4 separate regions of the Homo sapiens genome follow, and regions 1, 3 and 4 are each linked to region 2. The links come from fine-mapping of genetic effects on gene expression. A gene starts in region 2. Each other region holds a variant in brackets. All regions are shown on one strand. Distances are between the middles of the regions.

Region 1 (7,964 bases), 490 kb after region 2:
TGTGAGGTTAGTTAGCAAGATGAAGTGGAGGAATCAGATCCCAGATGACAAGAGTCTGCTGTTCAGGAAGACATTTATAGTCACAGCACAAATTAACAAACACATCTAAATGGCCTTGATCTTCTTTTATACTTCCTGCCTAGGTAGGAAGTTGTGGTCTCAGGAGCTAGAACCACAGATATGAAGAAAATGGCTTTAGTTGGTAAAGAAAGTAGTATATAAAGTAGCAGCTGCATTTAAGTCCTCAAATGCTGTTATAGATATTTAATTTTGTTCCATGTTTTCTCAAATATACTTACTGCTTCTCAAATATACTTCTGGCAGAGCTGCTTCTCACGACAGAGACTGAAAAACCAGATTATTGCTTTCTCAGTTTCCCTTACAACTAGGAATGGCCTTGTCTTAGTCCATTCATGCTGCTACACCAAAATACCTCGGACTGGATAATTCATAACAAGAGAAATTTATTGCTCACAGTTCTGGAGCCTGGGAAGTCCAAGATCAACGTACCAGCAGATTCAGATGAAGGCGTGTTCTCAGCTTCATAGGTGGTGCATTCTTGCTGCTTCTTCACATGATGGAAGGAGTGAACAAGCTCCCTTGGGCCTCTTTTACAAAGGTACAAAGCTCCACCATCATGACTTAATCGCCTCCTAAAGGCCCTACCTCTTAAAATATTGCATTGGGGATTAGATTTCAATTTATGAATTTTGAAGGGACACAAACATTCAGATTATATTAGGCCACATGACACAGTTCTGGCCAAGGAGAGGAAGGGGAAGACTACTGGGAGACGTCTGAGGACATTTTTATTCTAGTTAAAAAGACGAGTATGCATGAGGCTCCTACTCTTTCATTCATGTCTATGAATATAGTTGTATGAGCACATGATTTCTTCAACCATGGCAACCATGCAAGCCTAGAGACCAAGAGCCAACACTGAAGGTAGAAAAGCAAAAGGATGAAGGAAGCCTGGTCAGTCATAGCATTTTTCAGCTGATGAACCAAAATAAGACCTCTACATTTCTTATTTTGTGAGAGAGTAAGAACTTTTATTGACACTTTTAGTTTTTTGTTACCTGCTTCTGCATTTTGACACATTCAAAATATAAAATGATACAGAATCTATATCATTGTAAGTACATAAAATATGTTAGTGTGTGGATAAGGACAGGATGGTATTGGTAGGGGCAGGAAGCAGGGAAATTCTCGGCAGAAAAGGGCAGGGTCCCTGGCGAAGCCCCACCCTCAAGCCTAGAACCGCGGTCCAAAGTGAGAGCATGCATTCCTATTTTCTTGCTCAAATGTTGCCTTTTCCAAAATCACCATGACCTGTCTCACCCCTCATCCTGTACCCATTAAATCCCCTGGCCCAACTGGCAGATGGCAAAGAAGGAGAGAAGAGAAGAAGTAGCCAGACATTGGAAAGAAACAGCTTGACTTCAGAGGAATGGCTTGATGGTGGGACTTAGGAGAAGTGTACAGCAGGGGACTGCTGGACTCCATGGGAAGATCACCTTCCCACTCCATCCCCCTTCCAGCTCCCCATCCTGCTGGGAGCCACTTTCATCAGTAATAAAATTCTCCGCATTCATCACCCTTCAATTTTTTCATGCAACCTTGGTTGCAAGGACTCAGGTATGGGTGCAAAAGGTTGTCACACTGACCCTCCACTGAGCTGTTAACACTTAAGCCATTCATGGACAGAAAAGCTAAAAGAGCACACTGTAACACATGCCCTCTGGGTCTTCAGAGGTTGCGGGTACCCCCACAGATGCTGCTGCAGGGCTGCACAGTTTTGCTCCTGCCAGCACCCAAAAGCAGTCACTCTGGCTCCTGCACCTGCTCACTTGTGTGCTCCCCCTCCTGTGAGGGATTGAGAGCTGGGGGCTAAGTAACTGAGGCACCCCTGTTGCAAGGTCCATGAAGGGGTCAAGGAAAATTTCCTGTTTCAGTACGATGACTAATACCAAGACCAGAATGTTCTATAGAGAAGTGTTGGGGGAAAGGGAGAGCAGGGTCCCATTCCTGGACATTCTGATTTAATTGGCTTGGGGTAGGAGCCAAGCATTGGTATTTAAAATTTTAATTTTATTTTACAGGTGGAGAGACGAAGGATCAAGCAATGTGACTGGTAGAAACTGTGTTATACAAGGTAAACCAAGAGAGAATTGTGCAAAAATGTCTTCAGGGTCACTTCTTTCCCTAACTTGGTCCCTCAGAGTTCTTTCCACTAGATATCCAGTGTGTTCAACCTAACTCCTATCTGCAGTGGGCCTCCAAATATTGCACCCCTATGGGCAGGGCTGTGTGTCATTTCCCTGGCCCCTATCTGGGTCAAAACTGTCATTCCTCCAGGGACCTGCTGGGCAACTAGCAAACTAATCTTCAATGTATTTTACCCAAGGTGTTAATGACAGATAATGGCTTAATGCATTACCCCTCCCAGCTAACATTTCCATTTTAATAGAGCCTTTAAATGCTTTAACCTGAAGGAAACAGCATGAAAAATGCAGGGATAGCAAATATCTGGCACCTTTGCTCCTTCCCTGTTCCTGGAAGACATCTTCAAATGGTCACTGAGGCTTTTCCTGCTATGCCTGGACATACCCTGAGAAGCCCATAGGGCCCTGGGCAGCCCCTACCAGCCTATGATGGGAGTTACCATGCAAGATGAAATCTATTTGCCAACCTTATCGTGAAACAAATATTTGTCCAGGAGTAAAAAGACCTGAATTCTACTTTGGGGCTTTGACATTACCTGGACATAGGGCCTAAACAAATTTATTAGACATTTCCAAGTCTCAGTTTCCTTACCCATAAAATGAGAGGACTGGCATTAGAGTCAAGCATTTCCAAAGCATAGTTCTCAATCTGCCAGGGACTCTCAAAATCTGACCTCACAGCTCTCCAAGCTGGTTGCTGCTACCACGTACCTCTTCCCATTTTTGCCTTGCTTCCCACAAGGGAAGGAAATTCACTCCCAACTGGGCACCACCTTTCTATCTCTATTTGGGGACCTTCCTGTCCCTGAAAGGCCCTGGGAACATAATGTAAAGCAACTATGGGGGCAGCTGCTAAGAAGCCAGATCTTGTGACACTAAGAGTCCAGTCACGTGGTTCAGAGTCCACAGCAACCTGTGGCGACTATGCAGTCATCAGCCAGAGAGGCAGAGCCTCTGTCTGGAGATGTGTCAGAAATGGGTGTGACTAGTCCCAGACACATCAAGTGAGGAAAAATCAGGTGTGCAGATTACGTTGTGTAAATGCCTTTCTAATTCTCAATGCTCCAGGAAGGAATCTCAGAGATTAAATTAAGCTGTTAACCCTCTAGGCGCTCCTGTCGTTTATTGTTAAGGAATTAATAGGAATGCGGGAATGCAGATGGCCTGGCTGTCAGCTCGGAGAGGCGATTTTTCTGATCTCCAAGGAGGTTTCCAGCATCTTTCATTAAGCACTCGTGTACCAACTTGTCATTTTAACCGAGCAGCAAAGAAACTCCCACTCAACTGCCTACCTCAGGTGCTGGGAGTGCAATCCTCGGAGGAGTCTTTCTGGGTTGCAGGTGCAGGGGAGGCGCCCAGGTGATGGGGGTGGGGTGCAGCGAGAAATGGATTTAAAGCCACTCCAGGAAGGAAATCGGATCCCAAAACCTGGTTGTCCTGGGCACAGGCTTCAGGTGACTGCAGAAGATTCCTCTCTAGC[A/C]ATCCTGAACTGAGCAGAGATGTGAAAACTTACTTCTTTCCGCTTTCTCGAAGCGCTCCAGGACGCAGGTGGCACGCTCAACGCGGGGAGGCGCCACCTACAGGACAGAGGAAGACCTGCAGCTTGGGCTTGAGATTTCAACAGTCTGTGGCGGGGGCTGATGAGGGCGGCCCCTCCTCCTCCTGGAGTAATAATAGTCCCTGACATTTATCGAATGCTCTTCTCGTGCCAGACACTGTCCTGAGCACTTGACATGTATTAATGATTTTAAACCTCACAACAACCCTATTAGGTAGGTGTTATTTTCATCTTCATTTTATGGAATAGAAAACCACAGTTCCAGGAGAGAGAGTAATTTGCCCCAAGTCACCCAGTTAGGAAGTGGGAAGTGGAGACCCCGACCCTGAGTAGGCACTAAGGCGGGTGTGGTGGGATGGTTAGAGTCGGGCGCAACTCTACTCATGGTTCACAGCATTCAACTCTATGGGCCCTCAATTCTGCAGCTTTGGTTTACCATTTTTTGAGACTCGCTTACTCGTCTGGAAAGGAAATCTTTGCTAAGGTAATCATAACCTTGTATAATTTTTAAAGAGATGGAAAATGACAAACATCGCATATTCTCACTTATTTGTGGGATCTAAGAAAACAATTGAACTCCTGGAGATAGTGGAAGGATGGTTACCAGAGGCTGGGTAGTGGGGGGCCTGAGGGGGAGGTAGGGTGGTTAATGGGCACAAAAAAAAAAAAAATAGAAAAAACGAATAGGACCTAATATTTGATAGTACAACAGGGGGACTATGGTCAATAATACTTTAATTGTACATTTTGAAACAACTAAGAGTATAATTGTATTGTTTGTAACACAAAGGATAAATGCTTGAGGGGATGGATACCCATTTTCCATGATATAATTCTTACACATTGCATGCCTGTACCAAAATATCTCATGTGCCTCATAAGTGTATACACCTACTATTTACCCACAAACATTTTTGAAAAACCAAGGCGAAAAAGTGGGCACAGTGGGGCAGGGATGCTGGAGATTGTGTATCTCTCATCAGTTCATTTTTTCAGTTATATAGATGAGTATGAGAGAGGTAAGGGACCCAACCACGTGCACAATCTCAGTGACAGCGCAAGAACTGGAACCCAGATTTCCTCACTCCCAGCCCAGTGCTTTCCCCCCGTGCTACATTCATTCTTTAATCATCCATTGACAGGATGGATTCTGTATGTGGGATGGAAGGTAATCACACACAGTGTGGCTTCAGAGGCTCCAGGCCCACCCTCTGACCAAAATATACATTTCCTTTTTTTTTTTTTTTTTTTTTGAGACAGGGTTTTGCTCTGTTGCCCAGGCTGGAGTACAGTGACGCAATCTCGGCTCACTGCAACCTCCACCTCTGGCTTCAAGCAATTCTTCTGCCTCAGCCTCCTGAGTAGCAGGGATTACAGGCACACTCTACCACACCCAGTTAATTTTTGTATTTTTAGTAGAGATGGGGTTTCGCCATGTTGGCCAGGCTGGTCTCAAACTCCTGGCCTTTAGTGATCCGCCTGCCTCGACCTCCCAAAGTTCTGGGATTACAGGTGTGAACCACCATGCCCGGCTCAAAACATACTTTAAAAAAAACCTGGTGGCTGTTGCGTAAAATTCCACCATTAGTGGCTCATTTTATTCACTAAGACTTTGATCCTATCCACTTAGGACCAGTAAGGCTTTTAACTGTTGGCCATCATTTCATGTGTATGTAATTGAGTTCTAAAGCAGCGCTACTCAAAGTGTGGTCCACAGACAGCAGCATCAGTATCATCTGCAAGCTTGTTAGAAACGCAGGTCATGGCTTTCACCCAGACCTACTGAGTCAGAATTGCCCTAGTTCTCAAACTTCTGTGTATGTGCTTAACTTCTCATCTGAAGAGCTTATGAAAACACAATTTCCTGAGACAACTGTTCCCCACCTCAAACCCAGAGATTCTGATTCAGCAAGTCTGGGGAATGCACCCCAAAATTTGCATTTCTAACAGGCTCTCAGGTGATGCACCTGAGACCAGCTACTGCTGGTCTGGGGACTATACTTTCAGTAGGACCTAAGGAGTTCCTGATAACAGATATTGGGGAGGGAGAAGAGGGAGAATGAGCACACTGAGGTAGAAGAAGGAAAGGTTATCACCAAGGGTGCAAAGGGTACAGAATATGAAGCCTTGGAGTCAAAAACTGCTGAGGGTGTGAGTGCACAATCACGTCTTTCCATTTGAATACATTCAAATATTTAGATCCTTAAGTGATTCAATACAATGCATGCATGTTTGTTAGCTGGATTTACTGAGCCTATGGTAAAATCTGCTCTTGCATCACCTTTTGCTGAGCCCTGCCTGTCTCAGTTACAAATGAAAATCTTTCCAGTCCTCTCTGACCATCAGTTAGTTTTCCAATTTCATTCCAGAGTTAACTGCACTGTAGCAGCAGACAAAACTGGCCCGATGGCAGGAATACTGTTCCCCGATGGTATCAGAGCCATCTGTATTTATGTTTGCTGTGTGACTGTCACTTGTATACAATCATGCAGAGACTCTGATATTAAGACTTGGCCTGGAAATCACCCCCATGGCACAGCTCTGGTGGAAAAGGAAAAGGGGATTCAGTGGCAACCAGATATCAAACACAAATTACATTGCCCTTGTACCAAAACAGGCATCTTTAAGAAATCATGTCTTCTGGTCTTCCTTTGCTATACTTCAGGTAATATGGTACCCAGAGGAACCCAGAGAGATAACAACCTCTTCTATTTGTAAAGACCACTTGTGAAGGAAACTCCATAACCTCCCTGTGGTGGAGTGTATTATTGCTCAGCAAACATTCATTCTTCTCTATTTCCCTCCGTTGGGGGAGCAAACTTCCCCACTCCATTGATGATGGGTCTAGCCATGTGACTTGTTTTAGCCAATGGAATGTAAACAGAGGCTTTAACTCTACTTGCTTGGTTAAGCTTGGTCTCTTGCACCTCTACCCTTTGCCACGAGAAGAGCATGCCCTTGTCACTTCGGCCTGAGTCCCAGAATGAGAAGTTACATGGAGCAGACCTGAACAAGATTCACAACCTGAACAGAATCACTGCAGCCAATCCACAAACCTGTGAGCAAAAAATAAATGTTATAAATTTCTGAGATTTTAGATTAGTTGTTATGCAGCATTATTTTAGTAAAGTTGACTGATACACTCCCTCAGGTACCTGTTCCACTGAACTTTTGCTGCAAAGTTCTTCATTGTGTCTAACCTAAATCCGTCATACATTAATGTAAAGATCTATCTCATTTGTGGTCCAAATGAGGGATCACTAGATTACATCTTTGATTCTAAATGTCCAAATCTAGCTTGAATTGTTTACTATATATTTAGATGAATAAAATAGAGGTGCATTCAGGGAATTATTTGCATTTACAAAGTATCATCTATGGTTTTCCTTATTGGAGCTATTAGAAGGTGGGTCCTTAAGAAGTGATCGTCTTCAGGAACCAGAAAAGTAGCAATGGGAGAGATGAGAGTTTGGAAGCCTAATTAAAATATTATAGAACTGAGCCAGGTGTGGTGGCTCACACCTGTAATCCCAGCACTTTGGGAGGCCGAGGCAGGCAGATCATGAGGTCAGGAGTTTGAGACCAGCCTGGCCAACATAGTGAAACCCTGTCTCTACTAAAACTACAAAAAATTAGCCAGGTGTGGTGGTGCACACCTGTAATCCCAGCTACTTGGGAGACTGAGGCAGGAGAATCTCTTGAGCCCAGGAGGCAGAGGTTGCAGTGAGCCAAGATCGCACTATTGCACTACAGCCTGGGTAACAGCAAGATTCAGCCTTGAGGAAAAAAAAAAGTCATAGAACTGCCTTATTTTCTCTTATCTTTCTTTCCTAGCAGTTTATAAATTATTTATTTCCTAGCAATTTGCAATTATTTTATTTGCCTATTTTCTTTCTTTTTATTTGTCTGTCTCCCCCATTAGAAAGTGTTTCCATAAAGGCAGGAACAATGTTTGTCATATTCACAACTTTATCCTCCAGTACTCAGCAAACTCTGGCATGTAGCAGTCCCAAAAAAAAAAAAAAAAAAAAAAAATTCAGTAGAGACAGGGTTTCACCATGTTGGCCAGGCTGGTCTCAAACTCCTGGCTTCAGGTGATCCACCCTTTTCAACCTCCCAAAGTGCTGGGATTACAGGCGTGAGCCACTGTGCCTGGCCAAAAAAAAATTGTTAAATAAATT
Region 2 (7,619 bases):
GGATCTGGGGACCTTGAACCTCTTGTCCCAAGACAAAGCAATCATGGTCCCCACTTATCACAACTACCACCAACATCAAATGCCTTCCTGCATATGGCTTTCCTTCATTACAAGCATCCATTAAGCTCCTGACACTCAATGTCAAGAGTCACACCGGATGCTGGGGTTATAGAGATGAACAAGTCTGCTTTGGCTTCCCAGCCCACAGGTACTCGCAGACTAGGTGGGGAGACAGACTGAAAAACGCAACATGCCGGGCACGGTGGCTCACGCCTGTAATCCCAGCACTTTGGGAGGCCAAGGTGGGCAGATCACGAGGTCAGGAGTTCAAGACCACCCTGGCCAACATGGTGAAACCCCATCTCTACTGAAAATACAAAAATTAGCCAGGCATGGTGGCACGTGCCTGTAATCCCAGTTATTTGGGAGGCTGAGGTAGGAGAATCGCTTGAACCCAAGAGGAGGAGGTTGCAGTGGGCTGAGATCACACCACTGCACTCCAGCCTGGGTGACAGAGCGAGATTCTGTCTCAAAAAAAAAAAAGGAAAGAAAGAAAGAAAGAAAAAAGCAACACAGTGGTTACACTCCGGGCAGCAAGAGGCCCAAGGCTGCTATGTTTCCAGAGCTTCCAGCCTAGCAGGCAGATACACCACACACACACAGGCACACACACCACACCCCATAGTCAGTGTGGCTGTGAGCAAACACACAGACCATAAAGTAATAAAAATATAGCAGATAAAATAAATGAGTTATTTGAATGTTGAAAGTAAGCCTTCTTTTATGGATATTGCAGGAGGATAAGTAATGGGCTCCCTTTCCCAGAATGGGGTGTGGTAAGAATGAACTTTGGAAAGGGGCAGGGCCTGCAGGGGTGGGAGTTCTGAGTGTCTGGCACAACAACTGGGGAGAAAATAGGAATCAGGCCCAAGGGAGGAAGAGACCTGAAGCTGTTGTGGCTGAGCCAAAGGGGTAGGCAGGGGTGCAGGAGAAGCAAAGGCACATCACACAGAGAAGAAGAATGCAGGCTGGGTAGCCCAACAGGCCTGGGTTTGAATCCCAGCCTCATCAACTACCCACTGTATGATTTTCCTTTTTTTTTTTTTTTTGAGTCTTTCTCTGTTTCCCAGGCTGGAGCGCAGTAGCACAATCTTGGCTCATTGCAACCTCTGCCTCCCAGGTTCAAGGGATTCTTCTGCCTCAGCCTCCCGAGTAGCTGGGATTACAGGCATGTGCCACCACGCCCAGCTAATTTTGTATTTTTAGTAGTTGGGGTTTCACCTTGTTGGCCAGGCTGGTCTCAAACTTCTGACCTCAGGTGATCCACCCGCCTCGGCCTCCCAAAGTGTTGAGTTCCATGTGTGAGCCACCGCGCCTGGCCCACTGTATGATCTGTATGATTTTCTTTTCTTTTCTTTTTTTTTGAGACGGAGTCTTTCTCTGTCACCCAGGCTGGAGTGCAGTGGCGCGATCTCGGCTCACTGCAACCTCCGCCTCCTGGGTTCAAGTGATTGTCCTGCCTCAGCCTCCTGAGTAGCTGGGACTACAGGCACGTGCCACCACACCCAGCTAATTTTTTGTGTTTTTAGTAGAGACGGGGTTTCACCGTGTTAGCCAGGATGGTCTCGATCTCTTGACCTTGTGATCCACCCACCTTGGCCTTCTAAAGTGTTGGGATTACAGACGTGAGCCACCGCACCTGGCCCACTGGATGATTTTCAACATGTTACGTAATTAATCTTTGGCTTCCTTGCCTTTAAAATCTGGTTAATGATGGTACCCACATTATAAGGTTGTTAGAAGAATCACATTAGATAAGGCTTGTAAAACATTTAGATCTACACTGGCACGTGGGCATGTTTATCACGTAATAAGCAAGCTAACAACAACAATAATGGATGGCAAGGTAGGCTGCCTACACGGTGCCTCGGGGCTCTGTGCTTCCTTGTCCAAAGCTGGTGCAGCCCTGGTATATCCTCCTCACCTCTCTACATGTGCTGCCCCTCTCCCAGGGTCCCATCTGCTAAATCAGCAGAGAACTGAGAGATTCCTGGTCAGAAACCTACCATACCTCTCTCTGCCTCCTTCTAGCTGCTGGGAGCCCCGATGACTAAAGTCTCCTGAAGGAGATAGAGTCGATGCCCTGGATGCCAGACCAATTATGTGCTTATCTACCCACAGACCCTGAAGTTCCCTGTGGCCTTGGAAAAGTGCAGAAACCCGCCAAAGGCCCATGCTCCTACACTCTTTGGGAACACAGAAGCATGTGCCTTTGGCAGGCTCTCCCCCAGAGCCTCTGCAGTCAGCAGAGGCAGGTTCTCTCCCAGAGCCTCTGGCTTTGGGACAGCCTCCCTGGAGTCAGTAGCTGGGCAGAACTGTTCTCAAACATCCTTCTGCTCCACGTGAGTCACCTTGGGGAGCTGTGGGTGGGGCTGAAGTGCTGGTGGTCCCTGCTTCCATCAACTCACCTGGGCTGGGTCTTCCAGACCCACCCTGTCCTGTTCTGCCCAGCCTGTTGGTTCAAGGAAGAGAGATAGATACACCTTGAGGGCAGGGCAGTGCCTTGCTCTTGAGATGTCCCAGACAGCCCCGAGCACATAGTTGGGGCCCAGTTAAGTGTGTGTTTAATCATGGAGGAGCCTGAGCAATTCCTACAGTCTGAGTCAGGCTGACTCAGATGGGAGCCAAATTCCCATGAAAGATCCCTGAAAAGGCCCTTAATTCAGCTCTATGAGCCATTTTCAGAGCAGTTTTTCAATCCGTTCTATAATAATAATGATCATATATGACATATATATATATTTTGAGATGGAGTCTCACTCTGTTGCCCAGGCTGGAGTGCAGTGGCGCAATCTGGGCTCATTGCAACCTCCGCCTCCCAAGTTCAGGTGATTCTTCCGCCGCAGCCTCCCGAGTAGCTGAGTAGCTGGGACTGCAGGCATGCACCACCACGCCGGGATGGTTTTTGTTTTTGTTTGTTTGTTTGTTTTTTGTTTTGTTTTGTTTTTGAGATGGAGTCTCACTCTGTCGCCCAGGCTGGAGTGCGGTGGCGCAATATCGGCTCACTGCAACCTCCGCCTCCCGGGTTCAAGCAGTTCTCCTGCCTCAGCTTCCTGAGTAGCTGGGATTACAGGCGTACGCCACCACGCCCAGCTAATTTTTGTATTTTTAGTAGAGACAGGGTTTCACCATGTTGATCAGGCTGGTCTCAAACTCCTGACCTCGTGATCCACCCGCCTCAGCATCCCAAAGTGCCGAGATTACAGGCGTGAGCCACCGTGCCCAGCGTGTTTTTTGTTTTTTTCAGAGATGGGATTTCACCATGTTGATCAGGCTGGTCTCGAATTCCTGACCTTAGGTGATCCGCCTGTCTCAGCCTCCCAAAAGTGCTGGGATTACAGGCGTGAGCCACCGCGCCTGGCCCATATATGATATTTCATATAGGGAGAGTTTACAAAGCATGAGAAATACAGCCACAGTATGTTGTAAACTGTCATGAGTTACTAGTGTGTTTATTTAAGCCTCTAAACAGAAATACCCTGAGATAGGATAGCTGTTATCTCCATGTGGGGAAACTGTGGCTATCAGATAGGTTATAGAAATGGTCCAAGACCTCACTGGGCAGAATCTAGGTCTTCCTGCTGCTGTATCACACTATGCATTTCAATCAAAAATTTACTAAGCCTCAAGTGTTGTGCTGTGGTGAACAGGAGCTGGGGAAGGAATATTTAGAAATGGCATACCCAGGGCCGGGCGCGGTGGCTCACGCCTGTAATCCCAGCACTTTAGGAGGCTGAAGCGGGAGAATCACGAGGTCAGGAAATCGAGACCATCCTGGCTAACACGGTGAGACCTCGTCTCTACTAAAAATACAAAAAAATTAGCCGGGCGTGGTGGCGGGCGCCTGTAGTCCCAGCTACTGGGGAGGCTGAGGCAGGAGAATGGCGTGAACCCAGGAGGCAGAGCTTGCAGTGAGCCGAGATCGTGTCACTGCACTCCAGCCCGGGCGACAGAGCGTGACTCCGTCTCAAAAAAAAAAAAAAAAAAAAAAAAAAAAGAAAAGGCATACCCAGCGCTGTGAGATCCTGGGGGATCTGGCCTCAGCCTACCCTCCCTCCTTACTCTACCCACTTCTTGGCCAATCTCAGACTCTCCCTTAGCTTCAGCCACCACTCGGACCACAGATTAGCCAGCTTGTGACTCTCCAAGCTGTATCTCCAGCCCCGACAACTCCCTCGAACTCCAAAATTATAGACCCAAGTGCCTTCTGCACACTTTCCATCTGGGGGTCTCCCAGCATTGCCAGACTAGGTTCAAAGCTAGACCCCCTCCTCCCCAACACCTGCTCAGCATCCTGCATCCCTGTCTCAGGTGGTGGTTCCCACCTAATCACCTAGGTGTCATCCTTAGTGTCTCTCTCCTCCACCCAAACAGCCAATCAATTGCCAAGTCCTATACATTTTCCTCCTAAATATTCCTCAGATCCAGCCCTTCCCCTTCCTCCTCATATCTTGTGTCCCAGCTCAGGCTATAATCCCTCGATAACAACCTCCTTCCAGCCTCCTTGTCCCCAGTCTTATCTCCCATGCATCCATCATCCCAGCAGCCTATCTGTACAGGTTCCTCCCTGCCTCAAACCCCTTCTGTGATTCCTCTGTCTGAAGGGATGAAGTCCAAGTTCCTTAATAAGTCTCCCTTTGATATGGCCTTTCCACCCTTACAGCCTCTCCTCTAGCCACTCGCTGCCTCAAACCATCTACGGTATAGAGGTTGGCCTGCCCGCGGAGCCGACTTCATCTTGAAATTCTTCATCATTTTGTAACAAGCAGCTGTGCATTTCCATTTTGCACTGGACCTCACAAATTACGTTGCCCGTCCTGCCTGCCTGTTGTTGCTTGCACCCCTCTTGCAGTTTGTGGCCACCTAAGCTTTGTCTGTGTAGTCTCCTCCACCTAAAACTCCTCTTCCCACATCACCCAGCTATCTTCAGCTCTTCGTTTAGACTCAATGTAGGTGTTCTCTTTGGGACGTCTCACCGACTCTCTTCCTTCCCCTTCCCTGCCCTAATCGCCCAACACGTTGCAGGTGCTCAACCATGTCTATTAGAGAAACTGAATGAGGAGGCAAAGCATGACAAGTGCCACAAGAGACCTGCACACTGCTCTGGATGGTAAAGCGACGCAAGGAGGGAAGAAGGTATTTGCAACGGCCTCCCAGATCGGCGCTAGGACCCCGCCAGCAGACGTCTCAATCTGCGTGGAGAAGACCCAGTGCCCGCCAGGGGAAGCGGCTGCCAGGCTGGGCTCTCGAGCGCCGCCTGTCGCAATCCCACGGCCGCTGCAGCGCACCCCCTCCCGTCCCCTGCCCTGAGCCCGCCTCGCGTCTCCAATTGGCTGTCTCCATTCTCCCGCCCCTCCCGAGCTCAGCCATTCGGAGCCTGGGGTGGGCGGGGCTTGAGGCCTGAGTGGAGCGTAAACCCTGATTGGCTGTACGGAAGGCGGCGACGTGGCCGAAGGATGCCCGTTTGTGTCTAAACGGAGGCTCGGCCACAACGCCACTGGATTGGTGGTAGGGCGGGGCGGGCCACAGTCTCCAGCCTGAAGCGGAAGTGGAGGAAAGATGGAGGTGTGGGGACAGGAGCTGGGTGTGCTGGGGACTGGCCGCGGACCCCTAACCTGTGTCTCCGGTCTCCCTCCGGAAGCGGCTCAACCCAGCCCATCGCTCTGGCCCCGTTCTGGCCCTGCAGGGTGGTGGTTGGGACGTTGAAATGAGCGCGCGAGTGGTACGTCCTCTCTCCGCGCTCACGCCCCCCTCCTCACCGTGTTTCCCGCCAGGACCATCAGCACGTGCCCATCGACATCCAGACCAGCAAGCTGCTCGGTAGGAGGGGGCGCCACCGCGCAGCTGGCTGTCGGGGGGAGGCCTGTGCGTTGCCCCCTGTGTCCAATAGCCGGGAGCTCTGACCCCTGAAAGCCTGAGTCGAGATGCTGACCACTGGCCTCGTTCTATGCCCCATCTGTGGCCAGACCTGCTTCCCTGATAGCAGCGGGAACGAACCATATGTACAGTCTGTTTGACCTGCGTTTTCTCCTTTAATAACATATGTTATCGTATCATTCAGGGACAGGATAAATGACTCGCTTTAAAAACAGTCAACCACTGCCGGGCGCGGTGGCTCATGCCTGTAATCCCAGCACTTTGGGAGGCCGAGGTGGGCGAATCACCTGAGGTCAGGAGTTCGAGACCAGCCTGACCAACATGGAGAAACCTTGTCTCCATGTCTCCATGACTAAAAATACAAAAAAATAAAAATAAAAAGTAGCCGGGCATGGGAGCACATGCCTGTAATCCCAGCTACTCGGGAGGCTGAGGTGGGAGAATTGCTTGAACCCCGGAGGCAGAGGTTGCGGTGAGCAGAGATCTCACTATTGCACTCCAGCCTGGGCAACGAGAGCGAAACTCCATCTCAAAAAGAAGACAAAAAACAGTCAACCACTAAGTGGCACATCTGAATTGGAACTTAAGTCTGTCTGACCCACTGTCCATGCCTTTTGCATTATGCCAGGAAAAAAAAAAAAAACCTCATTTAAAAAGCTTCCACCTCCCCCTTGATTTTAGGAGGAAGAGGGACCTAAGACCCAGTTGCAAATGAAAACCTTTTAGTGTCCAGGCCATCTCCAGGTTGTCTGTATGGGGCTTACATACTTCCTCCCCAGTTCATAGTCAGGGAAGGCCTCTTCATCTGATCACACAGCTCCTGGCATTTTAAAATGCTTATTGGATTCATGGATTTGATGCCAATCTTGTCCTTAAGATGGTGTCTGTTTGACTACCCCAGTCCGTTGCTTCTAGTTCTGTGACATCAACAGAATTTTTCTTTCTGAAAACTTTACAGGAATATAGCAGAGAGAGTATAACTGATACTAGTGTGGGACCCCAGCGTTTGACCGGTTGGCAGAGTTCAAGTTCTGAATTCACCACTCTGTAGTGCCATTTAGTCAGTCCTGCTTGGTGGTCACGGGGGAAGCTTCTTTAGCCTCCCTTCAGATTTGTACTGGCCCTTCAGCCCATGTGCAGTCTTGGTGTGTGAGCTTGTTCTTGGTCATGAAAAGGACCAATAAAATGACCACCATTCATTGAGGGTTTTTTTTTGTACCAGGTGCTGTTTTAGGCACTTGACATGATAAAAATGATCACTGTCATTTTTTGAGTCCTTGCCGTGTCTCAGGCACACTGTTCAGTGTTTTACCTGCATTCCCTTTTCTAGTCAGTGTCTTATTATTCCCCATTTTACATGTGGGAAAACTGAGGCACAGAATAGTAGACTTGCTCAAGAAACTTGATAACGAGAACCCAGGACCATCTGACCACAAAGCTCAGCTCTTAGCTCTCACTGAGGAAATATGCATGGCTCTGAAGCCACAAATCTGGGCCCAGACTTTGAGAGGTCAGTCCCATTGGTATTCACATGTACAGGGTGGTACTTCACTGTTCACAACAGAGTCATGTTATCTAGTCCTTAGGGCGCTGTAGGTATTAGGGGCTTTGCAGCTGTTCATTCATCCAGTACTTGGCATAACCATCTTGTATTTTCCATTGTCATGGTTAACCCCAGCCCT
Region 3 (7,964 bases), 30 kb after region 2:
GGAGGGCAGAGTAGTGCTAGTTGGCTTCTTTGCCCACCCTGAGATCGGGGTGTACTTGAGGGGGTCCCTGGAACTGGGGGCATTCTCTGCACCCCATCTTTGGGGCCTCTGGACAACCTCTGTCCAGGAAGCCACATTGCAAAAATTTCTCTCCTTGTCTCCATAGGATACCTTTGACATTCAGGGTCCCTTTGGGGAGACCCAGCCTCTTGAAGCTTTCTGCTTGCTCTGAGGAGGGGACACTCCCACCCTTACCCCACCCCCTCTCCTGACTGCCAGCTGGCCGGCGTGGGAGCCGGGCTTCCACTGCCCATTGTTTCTCAGCTCTCCTCCCATGGTGGCGGGGTGAGCCTCATCCCCCAGGTCAGGAGCACAGGGCAGCCCCTCCCCCTTCCCTCCCTGGGCTTCAAAGGCCCAGAGGGACTAACCCTTGTCACCATGGGGCCTCCCCTCTGGGAGCCATGATGGGGGCGGCTGCCCCCAAAGCAGCATTCAGTGGCTCCCTGGGAGTGAGCCGAGCAGGCCGGGAGGTGATCACAGGCATGTATGAGGTCAAACGAGGGAGGTCCCAGGCAGACGGCTTGGGAAAAGCTTGGGGATGGGAGAGAGGCAGCAAAGGTGATTGCAGTAATTAAAGCAATGAGCCCGCTACTTCCAAGAGGAGCTAATCCTAGCACAGCCCAGGACCAGGTGCTGTGTTTCCCATGTGCCGCGTCATTTCTCCTCACAGAAGCTGCGTAATACCAAAGCTACATTGCACACATGGAGAACATCAAGCTCAGAGAGGTTAAGTAATTTACCTGTGTCCCACAGAAAGGACCTGAAAAGGACTTGGACTCATATTATTTGACTCTGGAACCTTACTCCTAACTACTGTGCCAGGTGCTGAACTAGGCAACTGGGAGGGAAAACAGAATGGGTCCTGGGCACCCATCTTCAAAACACTCACCTGACTTCATACATGTCTGCAAAATGTGTGTTTCTTGCCAAAGAGCATCCAGGCATCCAAGAAGCAATGTTTTCACTGAGCCTACAAATATAGAAATTTCTCCCTCTTCTTTTCAGCTCTCCTTCCCCTTCTAAGTGTCTTTATTCCTCTTCTTCCCAGGCTAACATTCTCTCCTCCCACCATCTGCTCCCAAGGTGGCTGATACTGCCCACCTTGCTTCCCTGGGGATGGAGGGGTCTGGGGCTCATCCCTCCCCCAGGTGCTGTAATTTGTGAGGCTGCCCAACTGGAGTGGACCCAGGGCCTCCCAGACTGCCCTCCCGCCACTGTGAGTTGGCTGGCCTCTGCCCTCTGCCCTCTTCTGCCATTAACCCTGTCACCTGCCGGACATCAGCCTCCAGGCCCAGTCTGTCATCCATGGCCAAAGATGGATGGGGGGCGGCTGGGAAGCATAAGCAGCGACCCCTTAATGAGATCTGGCGGGGGAGGGCTGGGCTCTATCAGGCAGCAGCAGGGCCAGGTTGGCGATAACAGGCTCTTGTGGAGCGTGACCCATTTTCCTTCTGGAGGAGAAGACAGTCGGGTGAGAAGCTGCAGGACAGGTTTGGGGGACGGGTCACAGGGTTCTTTTACCACCCACCCCTATCCTCCTTCCCCTCTTCTGGCAAACCAGACTCGGTAGATGGGCAGAGGCTATGGAAAACAGATGACCCCCACTTCTCATTCCTCCTCTTTGGCACGGTGACCCCAGCTCCTAAGGAAGAAACACGGACACAAGGAATGACTAGGACACAGGAGACCAGATACCAGGCTGGGGCAGCCCCAGTCAGCCCTGGGAGATGTCAGAGAAACTGGAGGGAGGGGGCCTTTGTGGGGTGTCTATGGAGTGAGGAGCATCTTCAGAGGTGCAAGGAAAGGGCCTTTGTTGAAGCTGGTGAAAGAGTGGGATGCAAGGGTTGGGGGAGAACCATTATTGCGTTACTGGGTGGTCTCCCTACCATTTCCCCCCACGGTGATTCATGGCATTTTATTTAATTTATTTATTTATTTATTTATTTATTTATTTTTGAGATGGAGTCTCACACTGTCACCCAGGCTGGAGTGCAGTGGCGCGATCTCGGCTCACTGCAAGCTCTGCCTCCCGGGTTCATGCCATTCTCCTGCCTCAGCCTCCAGAGTAGCTGGGACTACAGGCACCTGCCACCATGCCCGGCTCATTTTTTGTATTTTTTTTTAGTAGAGACAGGGTTTCACCATGTTAGCCAGGATGGTCTCGATCTCCTGACCTCATGATCCGCCCACCTCGGCCTCCCAAAGTACTGGGATTACAGGCATGAGCCACTGCGCCCGGCAATTCATGGCATTTTAAAAGAAAGAGATGCTGGGCCGGGCACGGTGGCTCAAGCCTGTAATCCCAACACTTTGGGAGGCCGAGGCGGGTGGATTGCCTGAGGTCAGGAGTTCAAGACCAGCCTGGCGAACATAGTGAAACCCTATCTCTACTAAAAATACAAAAAATTAGCCGGGCTTGGTAGCGGGCTCCTGTAATTCCAGCTACTCGGAAGGCTGAGGCAGGAGAATGGCTTGAACCCAGGAAGGGGAGGTTGCAGTGAGCCAAGATTGTGCCATTGCACTCCAGCCTGAGCAACAAGAGCGAAACTCTGTCTCAATAAATAAATAAATAAGATGCTGGAAAGTTCTAGACTTTCATTGTACAGATAGGGAAGTTGATGTCCAGAGAGCGGAAGAGATCCACCCAAATAAGTAGAAGAGCCAGAGCGAGAATCCAGGGCTCTTGAAGACCCAGGCCTCCGCTCAGCACTGCACCACGCTTCCTTCTTGCTCCTTACCCGGGAAGAAAATACAACAGCTGCTGAAATAATTATTCCTGGACTTGTCTAAAAGGGGTTATTCTTTCCCACTTCCTCCCCCACCCCCTCAACCCACATACAGTGCATTGCCCAAGGACTTTTCGTAGGTTTGGGAGAGAGACTTGGGGGAAGAGGGGTGAGGATGCTTCTTGTTTCATCCAAGTCAGAATGGGAAATAATTTACTCCCTGAGGACATGAACAGGGTTGGGTCAAAATAGGACTCTTCAAGTTTGAGGGGTTTGTTTGGGTTTGGTTTGGTTTTGCCCAGCAAAGGTTGGCTGCGAGACCCTTTGGCCACTTATTTTGACATTGGCCACTGTCGATTGCCCCCTGCGCTCCTGCCTGGGTGCTGCTGTGGTGATGCCTGTCTCCTCTCCTCCCTGCCTATGACAGTCCAGCTGAGTTGGATTGTGGAGTGTGGCATCTGGTGGTTCGGGGATCAGGGACTTTTGAATCTGGTCCTAGTAAGCTGTGTGGCTCTCAGCAACAATTAATCTTTCTAGGTCTCAGCTGCCTCATCTTTAAAAGGTAGTAATAGAAAAGTCTTCACACTTTTTTTTTTTTTTTGAGACAGTCTTGCTCCATCGCCCAGGCTGGAGTGCAGTAGCGCAATCTCGGCTTACTGCAACCTCCGCCTCCCAGGTTCAAGCCATTTTCCTGCCTCAGCCTCCCAAGTAGCTGGGATTACAGGCACCCACCACCACACCTGGCTAATTTTTTAAATGTATTTTTAGTAGAGACGGGGTTTCACCATGTTGGCCAGCCTGGTCTCAAACTCCTGACCTCAGGTGATCCACCTGCCTCAGCCTCCCAAAATGCTGAGATTACAGGTGTGAGCCACCATGCCTGGCCCACACTTCTTTTTAAAAAGAAGGACCAGGCTGGGCAACGGTGGCTCATGCCAGTAACCCCAGCACTTTGGGAGGCTGAGGTTGGAGGATCACTTGAGCTCAGGAGTTCAACACTAGCCTGGGCAACATGGTGAAACGTTGTCTGTACTAAAAATACAAAAATTAGCTGGGCATGGTGTTGTATGCCTGTAGTCCCAGTTACTCGGGAGGCTGAGGCAGAAGGATGGCTTGAGTTCGGGAGGCAGAGGTTGCAGTGAACTGAGATCACGCCACTGCCCTCCAGCCTGGGTGACAGAGCAAGACTTTGTCTTAAAAAAAAAAAAAAAAAAAGACCAGAACCAGTGCCATGCTGAAGCTGGCTTGCACTGGATCCTAAAAGCCAATTATGTGCATTTCCCAACTTTGCACTGGGATTTCCAGTTGGTGGCTTGAAATGGGCTTTTGTGGAAATATTTACACCACAGAAATAAGCAAAGGCTACAAATCAGGGCTTCAGCACTCCAAGTGAGAGCCAGCCAGTAAACTTTTAGCAGCACGACACTGGCCAGAACTCTAACATGTTATATAAAAACACATAAACAGGCTGGTCACAGTGGCTCATGCCTTTGGGAAACCGAGGTGGGCGAATCCCCTGAGGTCAGCAGCTCGAGACTAGCCTGGCCAACATGGTGAAACCCCATCTCTACTAAAAATACAAAAATTAGCCGGGCATGGTGGCGCATGCCTGTAATCCCAGCTACTCAGGAGGCTGAGACAGGAGAATCGCTTGAACCCAGGAGGCAGAGGTGGCAGTGAGCGGAGATCATGCCATTGCACTCTAGTCCGGGCGACAGTGTGAGACTCTGTCTGAAAAACAAAACAAAACAAAACAAAACAACAAAACAAAAAAACACACATAAACAGAACTGCTTTGGTTGGTTGAAACAAGGGTTCCCCACTCCCCTCACACACATCAAGCTTTGCCAAAACCCAGGACTTGAAGTCTGAGATTTGTGCCAGCTCTCAATCCTGTGAGTCTAAGTAACAGGCCACAAGAGGTGATGCAGGAGGAAGAATGACGAACAATGATGAGGCTTAGGTTTTATGACTGTATTTAGCTAATCGAGCCTTGTCTGTGTGGGCAAGTCAACTTTGATGATCCAGGAAGCACCTCTGGAGTTGCTTAACCCTGCAGGTCCCAAGGCCTTCTGGTGGCCTCGGCAGGTAGTGGCACCCTCCAGAGCAGTCTCTCACTAGCGGATCTCTCAGTGGGTGGCAGGAGGATGGCTTTAGGGGAGGGAATGTCACCCACCTCCCCACAACTGTGCCTCTGCCCTGCAGG[G/T]TGAAGGTAAATGAAGTGACATTTGAATCCATTCAGATACTGCAGGAGAATGAATGCTGAATGAATGAATGAATCCAGGGAGAGCTGGAGCCAAATAAGCTTCATCAATTTATGTGGTGGGGAGGATGCTAGCCAGGAAGTGGAGGCCAGTGTTCAAATGCAGGGCTCAAGCCATAGCTCCAGCAGTTCCTGACCATGACATTTTTTGTATTTCAGTACCGTTTTGTAGAATGGGGCTACTGAACCAGGCTTAAAATCGTATTTCAGTCTGGTCTTTATGATGGGGACGGTAGGGGTGAACATGGAGCTCTCATTCTGCATGTAGTGGAAGGGCCCACCCCGCAAGCATGTTTCGCTGCTATTTTTGCCAAGGTTCTGTGAAGATTTCAATATTCCCAAGCTTGCTATCTTTCAAGCCTAGTAGAATCAGCTGGGCTGATATCTTCTAGCTGGTGGGAAAAAATGCCAGCAAGCAAAAGAAAAGGAGAGGAGAAACAAATGTTTGTAACTGAAAGAAACCTGGCATTTAATCTAGTGATTTCTATCTGCCAATCATCAGAATTGTCATTACCTGGGACAATTTAAAAAGTACAATTTCTAGGCCAGGCGCGGTGGCTCACGCCTGTAATCCCAGCACTTTGGGAGGCCGAGGCAGGTGGATCATGAGGTCAGGAGATTGAGACCATCCTGGCTAACACGGTGAAACCCCGTCTCTACTAAAAATACAAAAAAATTAGGCGGGCAAGGTGGTGGGCGCCTGCAGTCCCAGCTACTCAGGAGGCTGAGGCAGAAGAATGGCGTGAACCCAGTGAGCCAAGATTGCACCACTGCACTCCAACCTGGGTGACAGAGCGAGACTCCGTCTCAAAAAATAAATAAATAAATAAAAATAGGCTGGGCGTGGTGGCTTACGCCTGTAATCCCAGCACTTTGGGAGGCCAAGGCGGGCAGATCATGAAGTCAGGAGATCGAGACCATCCTGGCTGACACGGTGAAACCCCATCTCTACTAAAAATACAAAAAATTAGCTGGGCGTGGTGGCGGACGCCTGTGGTCCCAGCTACCTGGGAGGCTGAGGCAGGATAATGGCGTGAAACCAGGAGGTGGAGGCTGCAGTGAGCTGAGATCGCGCCACTGCACCCCAGCCTGGGCGACAGAGCGAGACTCCGTCTCAAAAAATAAATACATAAATAAATAAATAATTTTAAAAAATAAAATAAAAAGTACAATTTCTTACCCTGCCTCTAGACATACTGATTATTAAAAATCTCCCGTTGGGGAGGGGTCTGGTGTTTGGGAACCAGCACACTCCCTCTCCTGACCTCCCACAGCAGAGGGTGAAGGCTACCACCAGCTGACCAGTCATAAGACTTTGTCTTCTTTCTGTTTCTAAAAGAGATTTCCTCATTTTCCCTTAGCAAATAGGGAAAGACCAAAAAAAAAAAAAAAAAAAAAGAGTTCTTTCCCACAGCTAACCTAAATCTTGGCTGCATTTCTAGGCCTCTCATCTGCATAATAACTTCACTGATGATTTCAGAGTTTGCTTTCTTCACCCTGAATGTTCTGGGTTTATTTCTTCATTCAATAAAAATTAATTCAGCACCTCCTACTCACCAGGTCCTTTAGTAGCTGTTGGGGAGATGAGCAAAATGGACACTATCCTTGGCTTTTGCATCTTATAGCCTTTTAAGGGAGTCAGACAGTTAAATTTGCAATGGTGGCTCATGCCTATAATCTCAACACTTTGGGAAGCCAAGGCAGGAGGATCGCTTGAAGTCAGGAGTTTGAGACCAGCCTGGGCAACATAGTGAGACCCTGTCTCTACAAAAAATTAAAAAATTAGCCGGGTATGGTAACACATGCCTGTGGTCCCAGCTACTTGAGAGGCTGAGGTGGGAGGATTGCTTGAGCCTGGGAGGAGGTCACGGTGCTTCAGTGAGCCTTGATTGCACCACTGCACTCCAGCCTGGGCGACACAGCGAGACCCTCATCTCTAAAAAATAATAATAAAAAAAATAGCATGTCAGGATGTCAGGCTAGGGCAGATGTTGGGATGGTAAGATGGGGTGGGGCAAAGCCTCCTGAAGAAATGAAGGGTCGGGTATGGTGGCTCATGCCTGTAATCCCAGCATTTTGGGAGGCCGAGGCAGGCGGATCCCTTGAGCCCAGGGATTTGAGACCAACCTAGGCAACATAGCAAAACCCCATCTCTACAATAAAATAAAATAAAATAAAATAAATAGCTGGGTGTGGTGGCGTGTGCCTGTAATCCCAGCTACTCAGGAGGCTGAGGCAAGAGAATTGCTTTAGCCTGGGAGGTGGAGGGTGCAGTGAGTGGTGTTTGTACCACTGCTTTCCAGCATGTAGCAAGAGAGTGAGACTCAACTGGAAGGAAGGAAGGAAGGAAGGGAGGGAGGGGAAAGAAGGAAAGGAGTGCTAATTTGCGGACTTAGGATAAGTAGCAGTTAGTCCAAGGATGTGGAAGGGAGGGTGGAGAGCAAAGATCCTGGCAGAAAGACCAGCATATGTGGGGCTGAAGGCAAAAAAACAGAGAATGCTTGACAAACTGAGTGAAAATTCATACAGTCGGGCACTCTGCCTCACAAATCCTTCTGTCATTTCTACAGTTCTCCCAGAAACCCCTTGAAACTCGCCTGTGACTCTCTAGGCTCCCTGGAGTCCAGAGCAAGACAAAGAACTTTTGTCTGATCAGCTGAGATATAATGAGAATGACCCCCAGGTTCCTTATTTATGCATCCGGCATGCAGCTTGCTTTTGTAAGAATAGCACTGTATTGCTGACTCATAGTCAGCCATGCATTTTACAATAATCCCACAATGTCTGCCCTGGATTTTCTTTCTGCCTAACTTCCTGTTCAGCCTTCTTTTAAAAAGCCTTGCCTCTGTGCTCTCTTTTTACTTATCTCTTTCTTTGAAATGGATCACGTCTAGAATTTGTGGGTTTCAGGGAAA
Region 4 (5,000 bases), 37 kb after region 2:
CCGTGGCCTTGTGAGACTGAAGCACAAGCTCCTTCCTCAGCTGCCAGGGAAGAATTTAATTACCAATTAAAGCCCCCTCCATCTGTTTCGGGCCTGCCAGAGAGCTCTCTCTACCCTTTAATTACATCTCTGACAACAATTTAACTCAATTAGCTGGTAAACACAGCAGAATGCAGGCAACCCAGGGCACCCTCTTGTCCCTGCCATCTGTCTGTCCGTCTTGTGCTTTCCCAACTCGCTCTCAGTCTGTCTGTCCTGCCCCTGCTTCCCTGTCTCATTTTGACACCGCCCCCCACCCCTTGGTTTTCTCTTTTTCTTCTGTCTTCTCCAGCACCTCTTGTCTGTTTCACACCAGCTGGGTTTCCCCCGCCCTCCGCGTCTTTGTCATTCTGTCTTCCTCTCCCATCTGCTCTTTGTCCATCCCTTTCCCGTGCTCTGTCTTGTTCTGTGCATCCCAACTTTCTCTCTTACTCTGCCAGGCTAGTCTCCAATGAGCCTTTTCCTTCCCCTTTCCTTCTCCCCGTCTTCTTCCTCCTTCTCCGCCATCTGTCCTACATTAACCAAATCCATCCCTTTCAGCATCTCCTCTGTGAGCCTCCTTTCTGGTGTGTTTCCCTTAACCCCTGCCATCTCCTTTTGCTTCATCCACTTAGCACAAACAAAGGTGAGCCCTAGGAGCAGTAGTTGCCATCTTTTGAGCACTTACTTTGCCAGTCATTGGCTAAGAGCTTTACATGCATTATTTTGTTGAATTTTTACAAAAATTGTGTGAATGGGTATAATTATTCCCATTTCACAAGTGGAATAATGGATCCTCTGAGAGATTTTGCCACTTATCCAAGGTCACAGAGCTTGCAACTGATAGAACTAGGATTCAAAGCCAGGTCTGTTTCCTTCAATACTGCATGAGATACCCGAGGCTGGGCACAGTAGCTCATGCCTGTAATCCCAGCACTTTGGGAGGCCAAGGTGGGCAGATAGCTTGAGCCCAGGAGTTCGAGACCAGACTGGGCAACATGATGAGACCCCCGTCTCTGCAAAAAATATAAAAATTAGCCAGAAGTGGTGCATGCCTGTAGTCTCAGCTACTCAGGAGCCTGAGGTGAGTGAGTCACTTGAGCCCAGCAGGTCGAGGGGAGCAGTTTTAAGGATGACAGAGAGGCCTGAATATTTGGGGAAAGGCTCTGTGTTGTTGAAATGAAGGGCAAAGCAATAGGTTCCCAGTTAACATTGGGAGGGAGGTGGGTAGAGAAGGGTAAAAAATAGAAATCATTTCTGAGAATTTAACCTCCTCATTTCTGCTGGAAGGAACTTTCCAGATTCTAGTTTACTACAGTGTTGAAGAAGTTCCCCAGTCCTCTGAGAAAGTAAAAAATGTCCAGGACCTACAGGAATAAGAGAGAGGGAGAGAGAGAAACAAGTAGGCTATAATTATCCTAGCAACCCTCTCCTGGAATGGGGGCGGGGGTGGGTGCTGCAGAGAAGGGCAGCCTGATCCGTCTTGTGGACAGGCAGGGACATGATGGAGACCCCAGGTCAGCCAGGTAGTCACATGGCTGCAGCTTGGGCAGACCCCAGCCAGATAAAACTCATCTGCTTTCTTCCCCCATCCTTCCTCGGCTGACTAATCACTCTTCCTGTGATTAAAACAGAAAAGAACTGGGGGGAAAGGCTACAGGAGAGAAAGAGAGGCTGTCTCTGATCTCTGTTTTCTACCTTCCTTTGCTCTTGAGATGTGCTGTCCATCCTTGGGGGTTTGCTCCGCTTGGTGTTTAGAACCCACATATTCCACTAACTCACACCTTCACCTTGCCTTCTGCCACACTAAGAAGAGTGCTGGGATTCCAGCGAAATTCCTCAAATGCAGAAACTGTGCTCTGAGAGCAAATGCCAGTCAGCTATGGGTTAGAGTCAGCCTCAGTAGGGAGACTGGCACAATACCCAGCTTTTTTTTTTTTTTTTTTTGTTTTTTGTCCTGTTTTTGTTTTTGTTTTTGAGATGGAGTCTTGCTCTGTCACCCAGGCTGGAGTGCAGTGGCGCCATCTCGGCTCACTGCAACCTCTGTCTCCCGGGTTCAAGCGATTCTCCTGCCTCAGTCACCCAAGGAGCTGGGATTACAGGCACGTGCCACCATGCCTGGCTAACTTCTGTATTTTTTATAGAGACGGGGTTTCACCATGTTGGCCAGGCTGGTCTCGAACTCCTGACCTCAAGTGATCCGCCCACCTTGGCTTCCCAAAGTGCTGAGATTACAGGCATGAACCACTGCATGTGGCCTCTTTTTTTTTTTTTTTTTTTTTGAGACAGTCTCACCCTGTTGCCCAGGCTGGAGTGCAGTGGCACAATCTCAGCTCACTTTGACCTCCACCTCCTGGGTTCAGGCAATTCTCGTGCCTCAGCATCCCAAGTAGCTGGATTATAAGCACGTGCTACCACGCCTAGCTAATTTTTGTATTTTTAGTAGAGACGGTGTTTCATCATGTTGGCCAGGCTGGTCTCGAATTTCTTGTGTCAAGTGATCCGCCCGCCTTAGCCTCCTAAAGTACTGGGATTACAAGCATGAGCGACTGTGCCTGGCAGAATTTTCAATATTACAGATCTCTCAAGAAGTCCCATCCTGCAGGCAGACATGGAAAGTTCTGGACAGAGGCAACTAAGGGGCAGGATGGAAGGCTGGAAAAGAGATGGGGTAGGGAAGCAAGGAATTCAAAATGAAGAAGCTCCCAGTCCAGTCCCAAGCTTTATACAATCAGTGGGTGTGTGGGCAGTTTCTGTAAACATTATATAATAAAGACCACAGAGAAGAGAGGCTGGTAGGTGTTTTTTTGTTTTTGTTTTTGTTTTTGTTTCTAAATAGACATGTAATTACCTAGAACTTTAGAGTTCAACAGACCAGCAGTCTACCTAACCTAGGGTCCTTCCTGTTGCAAGAATTATTATTATAGTAGCCCTCATAATAGCCTTCTTTGGATACTTCCAGCCACAGATAACTTATTACCTCACTAGGTAATACCTTTCTATTTTCAG[G/A]CTGTTTTAATGTTTTTTTTTTGTTTGTTTGTTTTTGTTTTTTTTGAGATGGAGTCTGGCTCTGTCACCCAGGCTGGAGTGCAGTGGTGCCATCTCGGCTCACTGCAAGCTCTGCCTCCCGGGTTCACGCCATTCTCCTGCCTCAGCCTCAGGAGTAGCTGGGACTACAGGCGCCCACCACTACGCCGGGTTAATTTTTTGTATTTTTATTAGAGACGGGGTTTCACCGTGTTAGCCAGGATGGTCTTGATCTCCTGACCTCGTGATCCGCCCTCCTCGGCCTCCCAAAATGCTGGGATTACGGGCGTGAGCCACCGCGCCTGGCCCTGTTTTAATGTTTAGAAAAATCTTTCTCATACTAAACCAGAGACTATTTCCCTGTAATTCACCTCCTTCTGTCCTTTTTTCATTGTGTGAATTGATGGAGAATATGTAAATCTTCCTCCACAGTTCAGATGCCAATCAAATGTCTAGAAGGCAGCCAAAAGGAATCCCTGAGAGTTAAACATTCCTAATTCCTTCACCTATTCCTCAAGTGCTCTCCTTTCAAAATCTCACTATTGTTTATATATCCCATAGGCTTTTTCATTAGCAATGCCTTTCTTTATAAATAGTGCCCCAGACCTAAAGATTAATTCCAAAGGGCACAGGATAAAGAAAGACCATCACCTCCCTTGTTCTAAAGACTGTATTTTATTAATGCAGCTCAGAATCTATAATTTTTTACAGCAGACGCAGATCACAGCAGTTTTATTTGTTTGTTTGTTTAGAGTTTCACTCTGTCTCCCAGGCTAGAGTGCAGTGTCACAATCTCGGCTCACTGCAACCTCCGCCTCCCGGATTCAAGCAATGCCTGTGCCTCAGCCTCCCAGTAGCTGGGATTACACCACCACGCCAAGCTAATTTTAGTATTTTTAGTAGAGACAAGGTTTCATCATGTTGGCCAGGCTGGCTCGAACTCCTGGCCTCATGTGATCTGCCCTCCTCAGCCTCCCAAATTGCTGGGATTACAGGTGTGAGCCACCATGCCCGGCCCATAGTAGCTTCTCTATCATATCAGCATATTGAGGTTGCAGGCAACTAAACTTACTGTTTTTAGTATATGTCACTCTTAGACCATGTCTTCCTCATTCCTACTGAATTAACTCTTTTGGTGACAAGTATAAAACTTATTTAATTCTTTTAAATTTCACCTCACTCAACTCAATTTAACACTGATGGAGCATACATCATGTTAAACTGTGTTCGATTTCGGCCAATGTTTCCATCCTGCTAAGATCTTATTAAATCCTTAGCCTGTCACCCGAAACATTAATTCTCTCTTTTAGCTGTGTGTCATCCACAGAGCTGATGAGCTTGTCTTTCATGTTTTCACCCAATCCTGATAAAGTGTTGAAAAGTACAGTGCCTCCTAAGAGGACCATTTTGAAAGAATCAACATCTGGCCGGGCACGGTGGCTTATGCCTGTAATCCCAGCACTTTGGGAGGCTGAGGTGAGCCGATCACGGGGTCAGGAGATCAAGACCACCCTGGCTAACATGGTGAAACCCTGTCTCTACTAAAAAAAAAATACAAAAAAAAAATTTGCCATGTGTGGTGGTGGGCACCTGTAGTCCCAGCTACTTGGGAGGCTAAGGCAGGAGAATGGCGTGAACCTGGGAGGCGGAGCTTGCAGTGAGCCGAGATGGCACCACTGCACTCCAGCCTGGGCAACAGAGCGAAACTCTGTCTCAAAAAAAAAAAAAAAGAAAGAAAGAAAGAATCAACATCTAAATGAATCTCTCTCCTTCAGATGGAGGCTATATAGTTGGTTTTTTGGTAACTTTTTATTTTGATAAATTTCAAACTTATAAAAAAATGTCAAAAATAGTACAAAGAACTCCCATGTGCCCTTTACCCAGATTCATCAATTGTTTACATTTTGCTCCATTCATTTCATCCTTATCTATCTACATGTTTACATATGCATTTT

Alleles and levels. Positions count from the first base shown, and alleles are read on the strand shown. Sizes are in standard deviations (SD) of each study's normalised expression. Not every link is listed here.
For the expression in activated CD8 T cells of the gene that starts at base 5,586 in region 2, G is the low allele of the variant in region 3 and T is the other (moderate effect, 0.59 SD a copy in Schmiedel 2018).
As copies of G replace A in region 4, the expression in monocytes after triphosphate RNA of the gene that starts at base 5,586 in region 2 goes up (large effect, 0.86 SD a copy in Kim-Hellmuth 2017).

Evidence for each region. PIP is the estimated chance that this variant, and not a neighbour inherited with it, causes the effect. A credible set is the group of variants that fine-mapping cannot tell apart.
Region 1: its variant is the best candidate, but not a certain one, in a credible set for the expression of CDK5RAP3 in whole blood (TOPMed, PIP 0.57).
Region 3: its variant is the best candidate, but not a certain one, in a credible set for the expression of CDK5RAP3 in activated CD8 T cells (Schmiedel 2018, PIP 0.85).
Region 4: its variant is the best candidate, but not a certain one, in a credible set for the expression of CDK5RAP3 in monocytes after triphosphate RNA (Kim-Hellmuth 2017, PIP 0.62).

Annotation. Positions count from the first base shown.
Region 1 is chr17:48,453,636-48,461,599 of GRCh38, forward strand. It overlaps LOC101927166 (a long non-coding RNA gene), which reads left to right. Exons shown (of 6, transcript NR_110804.1): 3 at 478-619; 4 at 1,384-1,638; 5 at 2,103-2,155. Among named protein-coding and RNA genes, the nearest start is that of SKAP1, 27 kb to the left of the region's middle. The variant A/C (reference allele first, on the strand shown) is at 3,706.
Region 2 is chr17:47,965,528-47,973,146 of GRCh38, forward strand. CDK5RAP3 (CDK5 regulatory subunit associated protein 3) reads left to right here and starts at 5,586. Exons shown (of 14, transcript NM_176096.3): 1 at 5,586-5,625; 2 at 5,835-5,880. The coding sequence starts at 5,620. RefSeq lists a silencer at 5,237-5,526 and an enhancer at 5,948-6,575.
Region 3 is chr17:47,995,002-48,002,965 of GRCh38, forward strand. No RefSeq gene overlaps it. Among named protein-coding and RNA genes, the nearest start is that of CDK5RAP3, 28 kb to the left of the region's middle. RefSeq lists an enhancer at 10-608. The variant G/T (reference allele first, on the strand shown) is at 4,993.
Region 4 is chr17:48,003,633-48,008,632 of GRCh38, forward strand. No RefSeq gene overlaps it. Among named protein-coding and RNA genes, the nearest start is that of MIR10226, 27 kb to the right of the region's middle. RefSeq lists an enhancer at 1-10 and a silencer at 1-45. The variant G/A (reference allele first, on the strand shown) is at 3,028.